Linked DNA regions of Homo sapiens: region 1 is linked to region 2. A link means that fine-mapping ties the variant in region 2 to the expression of a gene that starts in the linked region. Tissue or cell type: whole blood. Region 2 holds a variant in brackets; the other region holds the start of a gene. All regions are shown on one strand. Distances are between the middles of the regions.

Region 1 (10,218 bases), 47 kb after region 2:
CTGGCATGCTGTGCTGCATTTAGACACAGTGCTCTCTTTAATCCGTAAACCTAAAAGCAAGGAGACTTAGAGATCTCCAGGTTGGGAGCAGATCTATACCTTGGAAGACCTCCTGCTGTGCAATTCTTTTTAACTGCTCTCAGTGGTGAGCTTCTATTCCGCTGTTTTTAATTCAGACAACGTCTATGGCAATTAGGAGGTCTTAGGTGATCTCTGTTAGAACACTTTCCGTAAAGAGATATGAGCTGATTCCAAGCTACACCACATGAAAAAAAAAATGAGTGAAAACTGAGGAAACAGAGTTACAACAGAGGACACAGAGAGTGAGACAAGGTCAGTAAAAAGTCCAGTCTCTTGACTAGCACTACCTGAATCCCTAGTCCAATTCCCCGCCCAGGATGGGGAAGACTTAGCTAGAGCCGCAGGCCAAGGACATGGACAGAAACAGAAACAGAAATACAAGAGGGAGAGAGGATAAGAGCTAGATCAGTGTTTGGCAGAAGTCAGGAAATGAGGACAAGAATGCAAGTAGGGGATTAGCCTTGAAAAAATTGAAGAGTTAAACCCTTCTGCATTTGAGGCAAGAAGTGAACTTGGATTTTGCCAGAGTTTGGTTTGTGGAAGGAGATATGGAGATTTGAAGAAGTTCATGCCTAATGTCCCCCATGTGAGGGATAAAATAAGAGGGCAAGTAACCACCCCTCTCCATACCAAAGAGTGAGAATTAAAGAGTGATGAAGCAGGCTTGAAAAGATGGTAAGGACTAGATGAATAGGAAAAGAAACTGATTAGGAATAAATTTAAGAACTATACTTAAAGGTAGAATTCATGCATTTGTAGTAAAGTAATTGGCAGGGTTACCAGGTTTTGTGCAGCAGAACTCAGAAGTCGGGGAGGGTTCCATTGTTTTGCTTGGTTGATTTGCTGTAGGTTGGGGGTTAAAGAGGAGGAACAGAAATAAAAGAGGAGAGCTAATGAAGAATGGTGGTTAGGATATAGTTAAAATGATTGAACATGGTGTCCAGGCTGGGTGGGGAAGGAATTAACAAGATGGGCTGGAAAAAATCAGAAGTGACTAAGCAGCTGTAGACCTCAATGACATAGAGGAGGTGAGAAATGGGAAAGCTGGAAGTAAAATGAGAAAGTGCTATTGGGAGCTCAAGATTCCCAAAGAAGAGGGTGTTTCTGTGGGAGAGGGCTGCTGATATGGAGGGAGGCCAAGCTCATTGGAGTAGAGGAGGTTAGAGCAGAGACTAAATTGTCAGCTCAGACTTCATCAGGCTAATCTCCCAGGCCCATAGCATGAGACAATAGGCAGGAAGCTAGAGAGCCAGTTGCAGAGTCCACAGTGGCTGCAGGAAAGTGACCTGGAGGCTACAGATGATGGAGATAGGATGAAGGAGTATAAATTGGATGCTGGGAGTTTTAATGTAGGAGGGACTCTTATTATCTCTTACTTACTAGAATGTTGATCTGGATACGGCAATGGGCAATCGATAGAGGAATGCTCCAGAGAGCAGAAGGAAGGGCAAAACTGAATGGAGACCAAAAGACTGGAGAGACGGGTGATCGGAGGAGCTCATACCTTACATGGAATTGTGGGATGGGCCCAATCAGATTCAGGATTCCAAAGGTAATGTAATTATATATAATTGGCTGATGCCTAGAACACAGCAGGTTCTGAAGAAATATCTTTGTAATTAATGAATGTCTTTTGCTTTTAGGATTTTTTTTTTTTTTTTACCGTATGTACGTATGTATTCAGTTTCCATAACTTAGTCTTTAAACTTGCTGGCTCACCTGTAGACAGCTTCCAGGCCTCCTCACCACAGATTACAATAGATTATTCAGTGCAATTCAACTCCTTCATTGCCTATCTGTTTTCTTTCTCTAGAAATCCCTTTCTATAAAATGTCCAATTTAACTCTATATATAAGAGAAACAAAAACATAAAGTTTCTAGACTCTTTTTCTGAATTAATAAAAGTAACAATAATAACTGGGTGGGGTTATTGTGACCTCATTGCAGTTTACAAATTATCTCAGTTACCCATTTGTTTCTCAAAATCCCACAAGGTAGGCAAGATGGGTATTACTATGTCCAATTTTGCACATAATCCGTGTAGATAGGTCCTGTGACTTTCCAAGACTGCACAGCTTCACATGGTGAAAACAGAAGAGCCAGCCTGGAACCCATGTACTTCAAGTCTGAATTACGGTCTAGGACGACGGTTCCTTAAACTTCAGTATGAGTTTTTCTTCAAAGTACAGATTTAGTAGGTCTGGGATGAGGTTTCGGAATCTGCCTTTGAAGCAAACATCTGATGCTCATGTTTCAATGACCATACTCAGAAAAACACTAATCTAGAAAATCCTTTTCCCCCTTCTCTCTTAAAGCGGGGAGAAAAAAGAGGGAGATCTTACCTCCTATGAATCAAAGGACTTTTCTCGCCTTGGAGAACTGGAGCCCCCAGCTCTTCTCTTCTGCGACCTACCCACACACACTGATAAAGTTAATTATCTGCCCTGGCTAAATGACTTTCCTTAGCAACACCCTAGCAACTGACATCAGCTCTGCCTTAGGCTACAAAAACTGGAAGGAGATTTCTTGAAGTCCAGTATATTTTACAAAAGAACAAAACATCTGAACAGGAAATTAAGGGGAAAGTAAACTGGATTCATTGCTAGGAGATGAGAAATAGACACATGAAATAGTTCATGACAATCCACTGGACCACAGTAGTCAAAATGGGAAACTTTTTCTCCTCCTCAGTTCTACTGAAGTCCACAGGAGGGGAGACTGCAGGATCTCATTCTATGGAGGAAAATTTAATCAGGCAGGAGGAGGGAGGGCATTCCAGGCCATGAGAAAGCTGTAAGCAAAGGTGCTGAGGCAATACTGAAGTGGAGGACACGGGGAGCCCAGCTGGGTGGTGCTGGGAGCTCAGATTGGGATCTATGACCAGGCATGACCAGATGGACACAGTGAGACCAGATTGTGGATGGCCTTAGAGGCCAAGTCTTAAAATTTGGGCAGAGTCAGAAGGCACTGAGGGTAGGCTTGTTAAAAAGTTTTTATTCAGAGAAAAAATATTTATGGAACCCCTACCAGGGGCCGGGCACTACGATGTGCACGGAAAATACAGTGGTAAGCCCCATAGACATCCCCTACCCTTCTGGAGCTTAGAATTTAGAATGGAGACAAATACTGAACAAATGTAAAATTTTAAACATCAAACTTATAAATCAATGGGTCATTATAAATCTTAATATTAAAAGAAGCCAGGTGTGGTGGCTCATGCCTGTAGTCCCAACACTTTGGGAGGCTGAGGCAGGAAGATTGCTTGAGCCCAAGAGTTTGAGACCAACCTGAGCAACATAGGAAGACCCTGCCTCAAGAAGAAAGAAGAAAGAGGAAAGGAGAAAGGAGAAAGAAGAAGGAGGAGGAGGAGAGGGAGGAGGAAGAAGGAAGAAGAAGGAGGAGGAGGAGGAGGAGATTAAAAGAAAAGGTACTCATGAGCTTCAGCAGAGTTTTGGGGGCTGGATCTATTCTAGGAAATCAGAAAGGCCTTCTTTGGGGAGGCAGTTTTGCACTGAGATCTGAAGAGTACATAGGAGTTGGCCAATGGAGAGTGGTGGCTAGGAGAGACCAAAGAGCATGATAGGATTCCAGGCAGAGAGAACAGCACAGGCAAAGCCCATGAGAGAAGAGCTGCATGGCTGGAGAAGCAGATCAAGCAGAGCCTTGGAGGCCTGGCTGAAGATTCTGTCTTTATTCTGAGAGCCCTGAAAAACCACCAAGAAAAAATGTTAACCTCAGGATTGACATTCAAATCTGCATTTTTAAAAAGATCACTTGGGCTTCAGTGCAGAAGACAGATGGAAGGAGAGCACAAGTAGACAAGGGCAACCCAGTTAGGAAGATGAGAGAGGATGTCAACACAGACAGGGGTAGTGGTGGAGAAGAGCGTGAAACTTGATGTGGTGATGGATCGGATGAGTGGAGAAGACAGCAGAGGTCTGAGTGACAGCCAAGCTGGTTTAGGAAAACCTAGCTCATGTAGTGGGATTGGAGCTTGGTGAGCTGGTTAGAGCCTGCCGTCATAGCCCAGATGATAGGGCGAACACTGTGTACTGGAAAGTACCTCATTTGGTGTTGGGGATGCCTGTTTTAAATCCTGGCTCTTTCCCTTAATAGCCATGGAACATTACCTCAGCAGGTAATTTCATAGGCTCCTAATCTGAACAATGGGAGTGCGGAGGTGAATTGGGACTGCCTACTTCCCATAGTTTTCCTGTCAATATCCAATAAAAAGTTAAATATTGCATTCCTGCCTACTTCATGCCCACCCATCTCCAACTTAGATTTGAACCTTTTGTAGATGAATAGAGGTTCAAGAGCACAGATTTGAGCTTTCAGACATAAAATAAGCTTTGTGAAGACAGGGGTCACAATTTATTCATTTCTGTAGTTTCCTGCCCTCTGAGATAAGATCAGGTACACTTTCAAGAACCACTTATTTTAGTTTGTAGCATACATCACAATTATAATTTTAAAAGATTCATATAATTATGTATTTAATATTTGCCTTTGCCACAGGCCTGTAAAATCCTCAAAGGCAAGTAACATATCTGTGTTTTGTATCCAAGCACTGAGCACGTGGAGGGTCTTTGTCATGAATGAATGGATGGATAGAAGGATGCATGGATGGATGGATGGATGAATTTTTGTTCCGTCTTCTACCTACCGGTCAGCACAGAGTCTAGCTCCAAATCTACACTTAATGAAAGTTTGCTGGATGAATGGGACCGTGCAACTTGGAGTGCAGCATGAGCTCTGAGCCAGTCGAGTGAAGATGCAGACAATTCCCTCAGCACTCAGACATGGATCTGAGCCTCACCTCAAAAAGGAGGGCCGATCAGCTGGATCAGGTGCTGCTAGGGTCAAGAAGGGCTAGGGATGAGAGAAGAGCATAATTGGCTTCAGCAAGGGGTTACTTTCAGGTGACCTCTGAGAGAAGGCGTCCAGTTAATAGTGGCAGTGGGAATTCCAGCACAAGCACTAAGGAGTAAGTGGGCAGGCAGGGAGGAATGGAGATCTCCCATGCACCTAGCGCCCTGGGCCTGTTTGTAGCATTATGAAAGAGAAAACCCTGACCTGGAAAGCAAAGGAGATTGCTTGCTAATTGTAGGCACTTGAGGTGTGTCGAAGGCCCTGGGCAAAGAGAAGACGAGGAAACCAAAGCTTCTGAGGGCACCTGGGGAGGGATGTTTGTGTGCACTGAGAGGCAGGGGGCTTATGGTATCCCCAAGCGGGTGAGGGAGCAGGCGCCACTAGAGACCAACTAGAGTGTTTTATATGGGTCATATCATTTACTTCTAGCATATCACCCCACTACCTCTAAGAAGGATGTACTGGCACCCACCCCCACTTCCTTGTTCTCCAGAGCAGGAAACAAGCTTGGAGAGTGCGATAACTAGCCCAAGCTTCACAATGGGTGAGTGGCAGGACTGAGGTTTGATTCGGGTCTCTTCCCAGAGAGACACTGGGAGAGATTCTTGCCCCAGGTCTTTTCCCTTCAGGCCCTCAGGCTCAGCACCTCTCTGAACATCTGTCCCTGGGGAGTGAGAATCTGAACTAAAATGTAAGCCAAGAAAACACAGGCTCTTCATTGAATCTTTGGAAACTCCTTTCCTGGGCTGTAGGAGGACCTTCCTGAGCCTTAGGCACTTTTGCCTTTGCTGGCTCTTTCCTCCAAGTCAAGCATATTTTATGACTGTGGAGGTATAAATACAAATATATTAACATTATATAGTAAAACATTTTGTTTGACATAAATTTTTTCTTCTGATTTTTACAGAAAACATTTTCATAGATCTCCAAAAGTATCGTGGGCCCTAAGCGCTGTAGCTAAGTCGTTTCTCCTTTCTCAGCCTCCAGTCTGACATGTTCCACTATGGCCTTGGGAAGAGCAATGGGCCCGGAGTCGCCGCATCTAACCCTGCTGTAACTGGTCGCAAGTCACAGTTTGCTCATCTATAAAGTGAGCGAAAGTAATGTAATCTTTATTGGGAGTAGGGAACATGAAGGCGAGTCGATACAGTAAGTAAGCCGCCAAGCATATTGCTAGGCACAGAGCAGGTGTGCAACAAAAGTTATTTCTCAGGCTTTCCCTCCTCTGAGCGCCGTCCTCCAGAGGGTCCGGAGTGTAGCTGGGGGTTGGAGCAGCAGCCTCCTAGGCGATGGGACAGAGCCCACAGGGTCCGGTATGCCACGGTTTCTTCGTCAGACCCTGGGAATCCAACGTCGCAAAATAAACACGGCCGCGCCGCTAATCGCCAGTTCGGAGGAAACAAAACAGCGCTGCGCTGGGGGATCTGGGCAAAATCAGCCCTCCCTCCTCCCGCTCCTTCGCCGCGGCCCTCCCCTCCTCGCGCTGCTCTCGTTCGCTTGGCTCAGCTCAGCTCAGCTCAGCGCAGCTCCGCGGCCGCCAAGCCGAGGCGGGCACGGTCTCCGAGTCGCGGACGCCAGCTCCGAGCTCCCTCTCTCCGCCGCGCCTCCGCCAGGTCGCGCCTTCGTCGGGACCACTTCGGGCAGGAGTCGCGTGGCGAAGGCCTGCGGCCGCGGCACAAAGTTGGGGGCCGCGAAGATGAGGCTGTCCCCGGCGCCCCTGAAGCTGAGCCGGACTCCGGCACTGCTGGCCCTGGCGCTGCCCCTGGCCGCGGCGCTGGCCTTCTCCGACGAGACCCTGGACAAAGTGCCCAAGTCAGAGGGCTACTGCAGCCGTATCCTGCGCGCCCAGGGCACGCGGCGCGAGGGCTACACCGAGTTCAGCCTCCGCGTGGAGGGCGACCCCGACTTCTACAAGCCGGGAACCAGCTACCGCGGTAAGTGGCCGCCCGGCGTGGCATTAGGAGAGCGGGACCCGGTCCCCGGAGGGCGCCGACCTCGCGGTGCCGGAGGAGGGCGCGCGGTCTCCGGGCGCGTGGCGCGGGTGCAGCCCGGCAAGGGCCCTTCTGTCCTGGCTGCCCTCGGCCCTTGCAGTCGCGAGCTCGGCGCGGATCATAATCCAGCGTCCCGGGCCGTCGCGGGGGCCGCAGCCAGGAGAGGCACCCCGCGTTTCCGACGCGCGGTTCCCAGGCGGAGGATGTAACTGAGCCACACGTCACGCCGGCCTGACTGCAAGGGAGGCTCGCTTCTCCCCCGGCCGTCTGCAGGAGGGAAGTAAAACTGCCTTTCTCCAAATCGGTCTGGAGGGGACCCAGGCTTCTCTTGGTCGGGTCCCGGGCAAGGCAGCCACTCCAGCTTTCCCCGCTCAGTCCCTGAAGGAGAGGGTACCCGATTCTCAAAGACTGGCCCTGGGCGGGACAGCCACTCCGGCTTCCCTGGATAGGTCCCTTCAGGAGAAGGGACTTTGGCTTCTCCCTAACCGGTCCCGGGGTGCGGGAAGGAGGGGCAGGGACAGCCTAAAGCTCCTCGAAAGGGTCCTTGGAAAGAACCCCAAATTATTCTCTCGTGGTCCCAGACGAGATAGAGTATCTTGGGTTTCCAGAACAGGTTCCCAGTGGGGACAGGGTCCTCAAAGAGCTTGGGGTAAGCTCCGAGCTGCAAGGGGAATTGGATGAAGATGGAAAGAGAAGCCCCGATGCCCGAGGCCTGCTCCCTGGAGGCCGGGGAACCTTGGCTCCGGCAGCTCGGAGTCTCCACGTCCCAGGGATGTCGCGCCTACGCCGCTCGGCTGAGAGTGGGGTTTCGGGAGCTCAGGGAGGAGGTGTCCAAGCAGGTGAGAGCCTCCTAGGCGGGACAGGCAGTTCGACCAGCACCGATCTGAAGACGCCTGACTCTGTCCCCACGCCCGCCACCTCGCTCCTCAGCAGGGTCATCTCCCCAGACATCGTTTCCCCGTGCAGCAGCAGCCGCTCTCCGGGTGGGGGACAGGTAACCAGGAAGGGAAGCGAGCCTGTCTGGCCTCACCTTAGCTCCCGCCAGGGAGCGTGTCCTCTCACCCTCGCCCCTTCATAAGTCAGCTCTGGTGCTAAGCAGGGATGAGCGGGTCACTGGGGCACCTGGTGGGGCAAATGGGCTCCCAGCTGCTGTACTTTCCTCCTCGCCTTCCCAGTTCCCCAGAGAGCCTTGGACGGAAGCGGTGGGAGCAACACAGGAGAAAGTCTGGGGCAGCGTCAGCGGGCGCCAGGGTCACGCCGGAGACCAAAGCCAGGGGCCACCCTTCTTGGAGCGCTTTTCCCCCTTTCCCGGGTTTGTGTCCCCGACTTTCTCCACCCGGAGCTACCCAAAGCCGGCTCCTTGGTGCCCTTGGCACCTTGGCGTGCTGAGCACTTTGCGAGGAACAGTCTGACCCCGGCGCGCAGCTCCGCGGGATCCTGGGTACTCCACGAAGAAAGATTCTGGGCGGAGAACACCCCGCCCAGCCCGGGAGGGAGCGCGCGGCTTGGCACCGCGGCTAGAGCGAGCCGCGCCGACGGGCGGCGACTGCCACTCGGTGCAGCCGGGAGGCGGCCGATCCTCCCTGTGGACCGCAGGGAAGCGGGTATGACTTCAGTGGCCTATTCGGCCCTCCCCAAAACTGAGGACCTGAGTTCACAGGGGAAACTGTCCCCGCTCCACGTAGCAGAGAAAGAAGTGGCTCTGGAGTCCAACAGACTTGGGTTTACTCGCTGTGTGACCTTGTGCAAGTCATTTAATTTCTCTGCACCTATTTCCTAGCTGGAAAAAAAAAAAAGCTGTTTATCCACCCTCTCTTGGTGGTAGGGAGTAAATGAGTTTACAAAGGTGAGTGTGCCTGAGCTAAAAGAGATTCCTAATAAGCCTAACAGTTGAATGTGAGGCCTTTATTGGTTTACTAATGGAGGTAGGTTCTTGATCAGATTTTTGTTTTTGAAGAGTGTTGTGCGTTTGAAAGCAGGTTTCCTCAGCTCTCCTCCAGTCCCATTCATCTACCAGTGGTTATTTGGGTCCTCATGAATTAATTGAATGAATGAATGAGGTATTTTTTCATATCAGGAGCCTTGCCTAAGACTGTTGCTAATGCAAGCCCAGGAAGATTTTTTCAGTGACTTAGACTAGTCTGAGGTTCAGGCCAAGTGTACCCAGCGTCTCTTTTCACACTAATCCTCCGTGTTTTAGTTGAGCATTGGCAGCTGGTGGCCCTAGCACTGGGAAGGAGATACAGCTGGTATTCACGGGGCCAAAGAGGTTTCAGAACTACCTAAACGTCCAGGGCCAGCAGGTGGGGAACTGGGACTGGATAGGGAGTGTCCTGGACTTTCACCCTACAGGCTACTCCTGCCTAAACAGCCATCTGGACTTTGACACCCCAACTCAGGCTATAGATTGGGCAATCATCTTTTCTCCCTTCTTATGGCTAAAAGACCTTGGAAGAGATCTTGCAGGAACCATGCTGAGGTTTTCCAAGTAAATATCCTGCAATTAGCAAACCTGATTCTGCCACTCAAAGTCCGAAAGAAAAGGTACTGGCCTAGTTTGTGACATTTTCTGTTGGCTCCTTCTTTCTTAGAATAATTATGTTAAAAGTAACTCAAACACATTCTGCTCATTGTCCTGACTTAAGGCTGTGAAGCTGGCATTCCCCTGGTGTTCTATTTGCTTTTTAATTTTTTCATGAATTAGGATTCCTCACAATCCTTGGAATCAATGACTTGTTTTCCTGCCTCAAATCTTTGTCCACAGTATTCCAGTTCATCCCCAAGCAGCTTCTGTTCTTTGTGCCTGCTGTCTAAGTACAGTCTTTAGGTACTCTAGACCGGAATAAAATGGTCACTATTAAAAAAGACTGAAACATGGAGTTTCTTCCCCAAAACCTGAATCCAGTTGAGATCATTATTTTGTCTTTTCCAAGTTGTTAGTATTATATTGATTTCCTTTTCTTTCCCACCACTTCTCTCTACTCTCCCTCCCTCTTCCCACAGTCCCCCCTCCCTCCAACGGCAATAATTGTGCTTTAGAAAGCTCTGAAAGGCCTGCTCTGTTTCTGGCCAGGGCCTCCTTTGAAAAGGAGATTACAGTGATTAAAAATAACAAGTTGAGGATCCTCAAGGGGCTTCCCTTATACAGGAGGACAATTCGCAGGACCAGCCTTTCCCAGATCACAATTTCAAGCCAAACAGAAGAAAATCCACTGAAATATTCAAGAATTGATTGAAAATAAAAGAGGCTCTTTTGTCTTACTGGAGGTCTGTT
Region 2 (10,218 bases):
AGATGACCACAGTCCCAGCTGACATCTTGACTACAATTGCATGAGATACCCTGAGCCAGAATCACCCAGCTAAGCTACTACCACATTCCTGATGCTCAGAGAATGAATCTCATGGAGCCAACAAAAAATAATCAGAACATATTTAAAACAATCTTATGAATGGTGTTTTGATAAAGATTTGATAAGAGCAGAAGAAACATTAGGGTTTATATAAAATGAGGATATATTATACAGATTGGACCTTATACAATTGTGGGAGCTGGTTAAATGTTTATGTACAGCTATTGTTTCTGTGTTTCAGGCTGGAATCTGAAATCAGAAAGGCAGGCAATGAGGAAAGAAAGATGGACATGAACTGGGGGCAGCAAAACTGGAACCTGCAAAGACAGGTTAAAACCTACACCAGTTTCTCACTGTCCCCAAGCCTCCATAGAGTGGCATTGGTGGGAGAAATAGGTACTTTTCCTCATGTAGCTGAAGTGTGTCTAGCCCAGGAATCAGTGAAGCAGAAGACATTGGCCCAGCAGAATCTGGAGGAGCTACAGACCCAGCTGCTGTCTCATCCTAACCAGGCAAGCCAGCAGAACAGTAACAGCAGGTACCAAGCACCAATGCCTTGTGTGCTGCACCAACCTTGTGAGTGTAAAGTGAATACGGCTCCTACTTCACGTTCACCTTCCTAATCTCACACAATTGTTGGTTGTGGCCCAGCTAACCCAGAACTATGTAGAGAATTCTGGAGATGTAGTTCCAGCTAAATTAAGTTGATGCAATACAAATCCACCACAGAGTTGGAAAAGGACAAAATATAATAATGACAAAATATAATAATAACAAAATAAAATATTAAGAGAATAACCTACTGCAGCTAAATATGGTTTATTCCAGAGAAGCAAGGGTAGTTTTATGTTAGAAAAATCTGTTAATATAATGGCGTTAGTTCAACAACTCCAATATAAAAAATTGTATGATAATCTCAATAGATGACAAAAAGGTATTCAGAAAAATTTAACATTCATGCCTGATTTGGAAAAAAAATCCTCATAGAAAACTAGGAATAGGAAGATACTTCCTTTAATATATAATATTTCATATTGACAGCCTGCATTATCTTTAATGTTAAAAAACCAGAATCATTCCCATTAAATCCAGGAAGTGGCAGAGATGCTAGATGTCTCCATTGTCACGTAACACTGTTCTGGAAATTCTATCTGATGCAATAAGACATGAGGCAGAAATAAGAGGTAAGATTATCAGAAAGGAAGAGACACATTATTGTTATTTTCAGACAATATGATTATATATCTTTTAAAAACTGCAAGATAACCAGCTGAAAGCTCTTAATATTAGTTCATAATAAGTAAAATGATGGCACACCAAAAAAAAGTACAAAATTCAGTAGCTTTCCTCAATGGCAGTAATACCATTCAGATAACATAATGGGGAAGGGAATTCAATCACAAGAGATATCAGAAAATATTAAATGCCAGTGATGTAGACATTTTTGAAGAACACAGATTATTTATTTTGTTGTGTGTCTCTCAGTTTGGGTTTGTCTGATGTTTCCCTATTACTAGATTCAAGTTTTCTATTTTTGGCAAGGATATCTCAGAAGTCATGTTGTATCCTTCTCAGTTCATTGTATTATGAGGAACATGATGTTAATTAGTGTCATTATCAATTCTAGCAACTTTGATCTCTTGGTTAACGTGGTGTCTGCCAGATTTTTCTAGCATAAAATTATTTTTCTCCCTGTGGTTATTAAATGTCTTGTGGGAATTTATTTTGACACCATGGAAATATCCTGTTTCTCATCAAACTTTCACCCACTGTCAACTATTTTAAATGACAATGCTAGCAAGGGTGTGGTGAGATGTATATTTACACACAGTGCTAGGGGGTCATATAAATAAGTCACATTCTCTGAAAAGCAAATGATCAGTCCTTATGAGGAACATTAAAAATCATCAAAGTCTTCGATCTAATAATTCAACTTCTATGAATTTACTCCAAGAAGGATGAAAACCAAAAGTGTGGCCAAACAGGTATCCCTTTCATTTCAGAAATCTTAGTATAGTGAAAGTTTGGTAACAAGGTAACTGTCCAACAATAGTTAATAAATTATCATGGTTCTGTATAATGAAATAATATATAACCAATTATACTATTCTTAAAGACTAATGAAAAAATAGTCACTAAGTAATGTCATTTGAAGATATGGTATTTTAAACTGTATATACAGTATGTACTTACAGGTTTAAATTTTTTAGATAAAAAAACACCAAAATTTTAATAGTATTTGTTATCAAGGGCAGTTTTTCAGGTAACTTTCATTATTTTCTTTTATATTTTCCAAATACTATACAATAATATACTTATATATTCTTTTTTATAATTGAAAAAATCTTAATAAAGAAACACTGTGTGCAAGTTAATTTTCCTGCACATTTTCTTTGTGCAAATTTGTGGTCGATGTGTTACCTCTGCTAGAGTCAGCAACAAAGAATCAATGAAACAGCTGACAAAGCAGGTGAAATCACTTTGATATGTTTGGTAGCCATTAAAATGTAATGTGTAATACTGTACAATTACATCCATCTGCTCAGACCATTTTATTTTTTAACCTCATTTATTTAATCAGTAAATGACCCAATATTTAGGCAACATTTTATAATTTACAGTGCACTTTCATATACATTTTCTCATATGTTAAATGCTGACCTGTTTTAGGTCCTTTTAATCTGACCATGGAGAAAATCTTAAAAATGTCATTGAGCACTAGGGTCATCTTGCCTCTTTAGACCTCTCTTTCCTTGCTTTAAGAATATTGTGGTAAAAAGCACATATCACTTAGGCCTGTGATATGATTTGGCTCTATGTCCCCACCAAATCTCATGTTGAATTGTAATCCCCAGTGTTGGAGTTGGGGCCTGGTGGGAGGTGATTTGATCATGGGGGTGGCCCTTCATGAATGGGTTAGTACCATCCCTCGGTGCTGTTCTCATGATAGTGAGTGAGTGAGTTATCCTGAGATCTGGTTAAGTGTATAGCACCTCCTCACTCTTCCCTTTCTCCTGCTCTGGCCATGTAAGACATGCCTGCTTCCCCTTCACCTTCTGCCATAATTGTAAGTTTCCTAAGGCCTCTCCAGAAGCAGAAGCCACTATGGTTCCTATACAGACTGCAAAACCATGATCCCATTAAACCTCTTTTCTTTACAAATTACCCAGTCTCAGGCATTTCTTTATAGCAGTGTGAGAATGGACTAATATAGCCTGAGACTCCAAACAACAGGATTTGAGTTGTCTGTCTCCTTTTTATTAACATGTGACCCTAGGTGGATCATTTCATGTCTTTGTGCTTCATTTTTCTCATCTTCAAAATCGAGGATTCCTAAGGCTTCACTTAGCTTTATTAGTCTATGATTCTTATTCGGTATGCCCATTTTCTTCATGTCCAACATTTTTTCTTGACTGGTTCCTTTGAAACGTCAACAACCATCTGTGCCTTTGCAGGGTATCTGCAAATATCATCACACAAATATGCCTTAACAAGTTCACATCAGAAAAGGACTGGATTTTCTTTTGCCCTGACAATCATAAGCATTAGGCAAATCTGGATTTCCATCTCATTTCACCAGAAACTTTGGGCATCTGGTATCTCCCTTCCTAATTTAGCCCCCTTGAATGACTGTTGGCCACACTGCACCAGAGGGAACTTTATAAATAAGTGCACAGATATTAGGCATTATGTGAGAGGGCAAGTCACAGTACTCCAAGATCAGTAAACAATGTCGCCAATAAACACTTCCCAATGAGTTAGGAGAAATAGGTAGCAAGGAGAGATCATGCCCCCAATTTCTCTCAAGGAGACCAGGCCTTGAGCAGCTGTTTATAAGAATGTGATTTTCACTTGACACTCACACTAAACCCTGGTCCCCCCAGTAAGAGCTACAGCACTTTAAATGAAATGAGCTCCTTATAGAACACGGTTTGATTAAGTCTTGAGTTGCCTCATCTAAGGTCTGCTCTGGATAAGGCTTGCTAAACTTGACAAGTTTTTGAGGCTTCCAGGAGTCTTTGTCAAACCTGGAGTTAGGAATATAAGAATATGTGTTAAGCACCAACCATGGTATGGTTAAAGCCAATTATATCCATTCACTCATAGCAGTCTTGTAAGCTAGCTCACAAAATGAGAAAAATGTCTCAAAGAGGTTAAGTGAGGTATCCTAGGTCATACAACTAGGCAAGTGTGCCTGACGAAACTTATGATCTTTCTACTGCACTGTGGCTATCCAGACCTGGGGAATTCCAGATAGGTTTCAATCCCTCTTCATTCTGTTGCTGTAGGGTCATACATTCATTTACCAAACATTTATTGAATGTCCCGTGTGTGTCAGGAACTGTACTAGGCTCTGGGAATTCATTATTGAACAAAACAGAAAAACAGTGGAGAAGACTGATAGTAAACAAAATAAAAAGTAAAACACCTTGTGTGTGAGCTGTGATGTGTTAAGGAGAATGGTAAGATTTATTGACAGAGGAGAGCAGTTTGAGATGTGGTAATTTTTAAAAATTTTTTTTATTTCAATAGGTTTTTGGGGAACAGATGGTGTTTGGTTACATGAATAAGTTCTTTGGTGGTGATTTCTGAGATTTTGGTGCACCCATCACCTGAGCGGTGTACACCGTACCCAATGTGTAGTCTTTTATCTCTTACCACCCCCAACCCTTTTCCCCAAGTCCCTAAAGTCAAATGTATCATTCTTATGCCTTTGAATCCTCATAGCTGAGCTCCCACATATGAGTGAGAACATACAATCTTGATTTTCCATTCCTGAATTACTTCACTTAGCATATTAGTCTCCAATTTCTTCCAGGTTGCCGTGAATGCCATTATTTCATTCCTTTTTATGACTGAGTAGTATTCCATGGAGTGTATATGTGTGTGTGTATATATATATATA[T/TAC]ACACACACACATATATATATATACACACATGTATATATATATATATATATACATATACATATCACATTTTTTAACTACTCATTTGTTGATGGGCATTTGGGCTGGTTCCATATTTTTACAATTGCAAATTGTGCTGCTATAAACGTGTGTACAATTGTCTTTTTCATATAATGACTTCTTTTCCTCTGGGTGGATACCTAGTAGTGGGATTGCTGGATCAAACAGTAGGTCGACTTTTAGTTCTTTAAGGAATCTCCTTACTGTTTTAAGTAGTTGTTGTACTAGTTTACATTCCCACCAACAGTGTAAAAGTGTTCCCTTTTCACTGCATCCATGCCAACTTCTATTTTTTTTTAATTGTTTGATTATGGCCATTCTTGCAGGAGTGAGGTGGTATGCACCGTGGTTTTGATTTACATTTCCCTGATAATCAGTGATGTTGAGCATTTTTCCATATGCTTGTTGGCCTTTTGTGTATCTTCTTTGGAGAATTGTCTGTTCATGTCCTTAGCCCACTTTTTGATGGGATTGTTTGTTTTTTTTTTCTTGCTGATTTGTTTGAGTTCTTTGTAGATTCTGAATATTAGTCCTTTGTCAGATGTATAGCTTGTGAAGATTTTCTCCCACTCTGTGGGTTGTCTGTTAACTCTGCTGATTATTTATTTTGCTGTGCAGAAGCTCTTTAGTTTAATTAAGTCCCATCTACTTATCTTTGTTTTTGTTGCATTTGCTTTTGGGTTCTTGGTCATGAAGTCTTTGCCTAAGTCAATGTCTGGAAGGATTTTTCTGATGTTATCTTTTAGAATATTAATGGTTTCAGGTCTTAGATTTAAGTTTTTCATCCATCTAGAGTTGATTTTTGTATAAAGTGAGAGATGAGGATCCAGTTTCATTCTTCTACATGTGGCTTGCCAATTATCTCAGCACCATTTGTTGAAAAGGGTGTCCTTTCCACACTGTATGTTTTTATTTGCTTTGTCAAAGATCAGTTGGCTGTAAGTATCTGGCTTTATTTCTATGTTCTCTATTCTGTTCCATTGGTCTATGAGCCTATTTTTATACCAGTATCAGACTGTTCTGGTGACTATGGCCTTATAGTATAGTTTGAAATTGGGCAATGTGATGCCTCTAGATTTGTTCTTTTTGCTTAGTCTTGCTTTGGCTATGTGGGCTCTTTTTTGGTTCCATATGAATTTTAGGATTGTTTTTTCTAGTTCTGTGAAAACTGATGGTGGTATTTTGATGGGAATTGGATTGAATTTGTAGATCGTTTTTGGCAGTGTGGTCATTTTCACAATATTGATTCTACCCATTCATGAGCAGGAATGTGTTTCCATTTGTGTCATCTATGATTTCTCTCAGCAGTGTTTTGTAGTTTTCCTTGTAGAGGTCTTTCACATCTTTGGTTAGGTGTATTCCTAAGTATTTTATTTTTCTTGCAAGTATTGTGAAAGGGGTTCAGTTCGTGATTTGATTCTCAGCTTGGTCTCAGTTGGTGTATAGCAGAGCTATTGATGTGCGTACATTGATTTTGTATCCTGAAAGCTTTGCTGAATTCATTTACCAGTTCTAGGAGGTTTTAGGTTGAGTCTTTAGGGTTTTCTAGGTATACGATCATATCATTAGCCAACAGTAGCCCTTTTGTCTTGTTCCAGTTCTCAGGGGGAATGCTTTCAACTTTTCCTCTTTCAGTATAAGGTTGGCTTGTCACAGATGGCTTTTATTACCTTAAGGTATGAGATGTGGTAAATTTTGAGATGTCTATTAAACATCCAAATGAAGATGTCTGCATAACAGTTGAAAATACGTGTCTGGAGTTTAAGAGAGAGGTGAATGAAAACATCTCACTATAAAAAACAGAGGAGAAATCCTAGGGTTTTCTCTATTTGTAATTTAATAACTCCTGGTCTTGACCCTATCAGCTCCAGGGCAAAGACCTGAAGATGAAAAGTAATGGCGTGTTTGAGACACTAAAAGATACTCAGTGTGGGTGAATGTGGAATGTGGGGGGAAAATGGATCAAGAGGATCATAATTAGCTTGGACTTTGTTCAGGTGAGAATAGGAGGCCATAAAAGGGTTTAAAGGAGAGAAGATGTGTGCTTTAGCGAGAGGACTCAATCAGTCATGAAGACTAAATTGAAGAGCAAGGCTGTAGGCAAGAGGCCTGACCAGAAGCTGCTTCAGTAGCTCAGGTGAAAAAGACTGGAGGCTTTTACCAAGGCAGTGGGAAAAGATGGAGATAAGCAAGTGGGTTCCAGTTATATTTGGATTTAGAATCAGCAGGGCTTAGGGAGTGATTGGAAATAAAGGGTGGGCAAAGAGTGTGAAGGGAATTGAGGGTTCCAGGTTTCTGGCTTAGATGGCAGTGCCACTTACCAAAATGGAGATGAAGGAAGAGAAGCTGATTTGGTAAGGCCGAGGGTGAGTTTAGTTTTGCATATATTGTGCTCAAGGTGACTGGAAAATCCAAACTATACAGTTGAGTGTGTGCATCTTAAACCCCTGGGTAAAATCTGAACTGTGCATATTTGGGATACACACACAATACACACACCCACACAAAACAAAGAGTGTGTGTGCGTGTGTATGTGTTGTGTGTGCATATCCCAAACATGTGCAGATGAGGTCATCCAGGGCTAGTGTAGAGCATGCAAAGACAAAAAGACAAAACCCCAAGGAACCCTACATTATCCATATGCACGTCTAATTCATCTTTTTAACAACCCCATGAGTTAAATTTTATCTTTTCTGATGCAAATCAATGAGAATGACTGAAGTGAGTCACAATCATTTCAGAGGTTTATTTTGCCAAGGTTGAGGACATACCTAAGAAAAAGGAACACAAAACCACAGGAACATCTGTGATCTGTGCTTTTTCCAAAGAGGGTTTGGGAACTTCAGCTTTTAAAGGGGAAAGAGTGGGCAGTAGGGGAAAGAGAAGTGAAAAAAGAAGGAGAAGGTTAGATAAAAGGGGGAAGCAGTGTCATTGTTTTGAGTCTTTGATCAGCCTTCACTGAATCCATGTTTTACATGTAAAAGGAGGGGATCGAGGAAGAGTCAGTTATGCATTCATCTCATGCTCTGTGAATCTGCATTGTTACATAAGATGAAGTAAACATAGAGTAGAGGAAGCAGTCAAACATGCATTCATCTCAGGTGAATGGAGAGATGACTTCTGGTTCTGTCCTTGGTTCTATATCCGTGAAGATAAGCTGTTAATTTACATTGTCAAGGTGAAATTCAACAGAACTGATTTAGGGTAAAGATCTTGGGGCCCACAAGGAATTGCCTTGTGAGCAAATTGTGAGGGAGGTATGTAGCCTTTTATCTTTGTAACTATCTATTTAAGAACAAAATGGGGGGAAGTTTGGATTGACTCAGTCCCCAAGTTTGACCTTTCCCTTTGGCATAGTGAGTTTGAGGGTCCTGAGATTTTAATTTTCCTTTCACACTGTTTTCTCCACAGCTGAATGATGAAACAACCATAGGCATTTCCCAGTTCCCGGCCTCAGGAGGCCTATTTGTGTAACATCTGGGACCCTTTGCCAAATCAGCTTACATGTGGGTTATACATTTATTACACGAGGCATCCCTGCTGTGTGTAAAGCACATGAAGAAATCTTGAATACTGTCATGAAGCCTCCTTAAAAATGCTAGTATGAAGTATCCTACACAGGTTAAAATTAGAACCCTCCCTCCCATTTTTGCAATCTTTGGGTAAGGATATTTGGGCTGACACTGCAGTTTAGATTGAAAGCCAAGAAAGTTATCAACATGGTAAAAGTCAAGTTATAGGACCCCAGAGATCAGACAGGACGTGGAAGTCTTCATACATGAAAATAGTCTTTGGTCCACAAAGGTGAGAAAAGTAATAAAATTCCCACAGGTTTCTTCTAGTAAGATAATTGGTCAGAAGAAAATATCACAAATGCAAGGTATTGTGCTATTATTTTAGCACCTTTCTTGTAGGAATACATAGGAAGAAATGTAAAATATTCCTATAGAATCTTTAGAGAAGCTTTCCATGTGGGCTGATCCCAAGTACTAGGACAGAATACAGGCTTTTGAAAGGAGCTTTTAAAAATAATAGATAAGTGTTTTTTCTTTTGAAAATTGTTATATTGTGTGGTTTTAAAATATTTAAAATCTCCAAACAGAAATCCACTGAAGTGCAATAATTTTATTGTAGGATAGACTGAAAACAATATTTAACCCAGCAACTGGGCATCAAAGTGAGAAAGATTATATGCTAGAATGGCACAGGGAACGTGTTCCATGGTCTGCATTGCTGACTGCCACAGAACGCCTTGGGAGCAGGCTTGAGGCTTTCAGTGTCATTATGTAAGTACTCATAGACCACTTAGCCATGAGATATGACTTGTACATTTATATAAAGGAGAAAAGAAAGTCATTTTCCAAGTTAGTTTCCACAGCAACAATATTCCATATTTTCTTCTTCTGTGTCTAAACATGAGCATGCCTCAACTAGGGGGTGGAATATAATTCTTGCAAAATACCAGTTAAGACCAACCGTGAGTGTGAAAGCTTCAGGGATCACATTCATTCAACAAGCACTGATTACAAGCCTACCCTAGACCAGGAACTGTGGGAGACCTTGGAGATGTAGGGAGGAAGAAGCCCCAAGGTCTGCCCTCTAGATCCTTGTGTGCAATGAGAAAGAGCCAGATAGAAGGATGAATTAATAGAATGTGATAAAGTGCTATAATGGAGATACGTTTGGAGTATTAGGAGGGGGCAATTAACAGCCCCAAGAAGTCATGGACATTTGACCTAGATTTTGAATTTGAAAGAGGTATTTGACCTTGATCTTGAATGATCAATAAACTTTTGCAAATTGGGGAGGAAAGACGGGAAAGTGGGCAATTAAGACAAAGACAAATGTATGTTCAAAAACATACAAACTGAACAAATAGAGGTATGGAAGAGCAAAATCATTGAGAAAAGACAGGGTGGAGGGGGTGAGGAAGAGGCTATGAAGTAGGTTGAGGCTGTTTGGGAAGCATAATATGTGCCTAACTAAAGTGTAAGGATTTGATCTTGTAGATGATGAGAAACCACCAAACCTAATAACGCAGAGGCGAGATCAGTTTTATGCTATTAGAATATTCACATGAGCTGCAGAATAGACAATGAAAATAATTGAAAGAGTTGGGAAGAATGAAGGCAGAGTGATCCCCCTAAGATTTCATAGTTTATCTCAGGGTTTGAGAATGTACTGGGATGTAAAA

The links. PIP is the estimated chance that this variant, and not a neighbour inherited with it, causes the effect.
Region 1: it holds the start of SPON1, and the variant in region 2 is fine-mapped to the expression of SPON1 in whole blood (INTERVAL, PIP above 0.99).

The regions. Positions count from the first base shown.
Region 1 is chr11:13,956,256-13,966,473 of GRCh38, forward strand. It overlaps SPON1 (spondin 1), which reads left to right and starts at 6,468. Exons shown (of 16, transcript NM_006108.4): 1 at 6,468-6,887. The coding sequence starts at 6,650. LOC124902637 (a long non-coding RNA gene) reads left to right here and starts at 6,902. Exons shown (of 2, transcript XR_007062602.1): 1 at 6,902-8,790. RefSeq lists an enhancer at 9,753-10,218.
Region 2 is chr11:13,909,586-13,919,803 of GRCh38, forward strand. No RefSeq gene overlaps it. Among named protein-coding and RNA genes, the nearest start is that of LINC02683, 10 kb to the right of the region's middle. The variant T/TAC (reference allele first, on the strand shown) is at 4,967.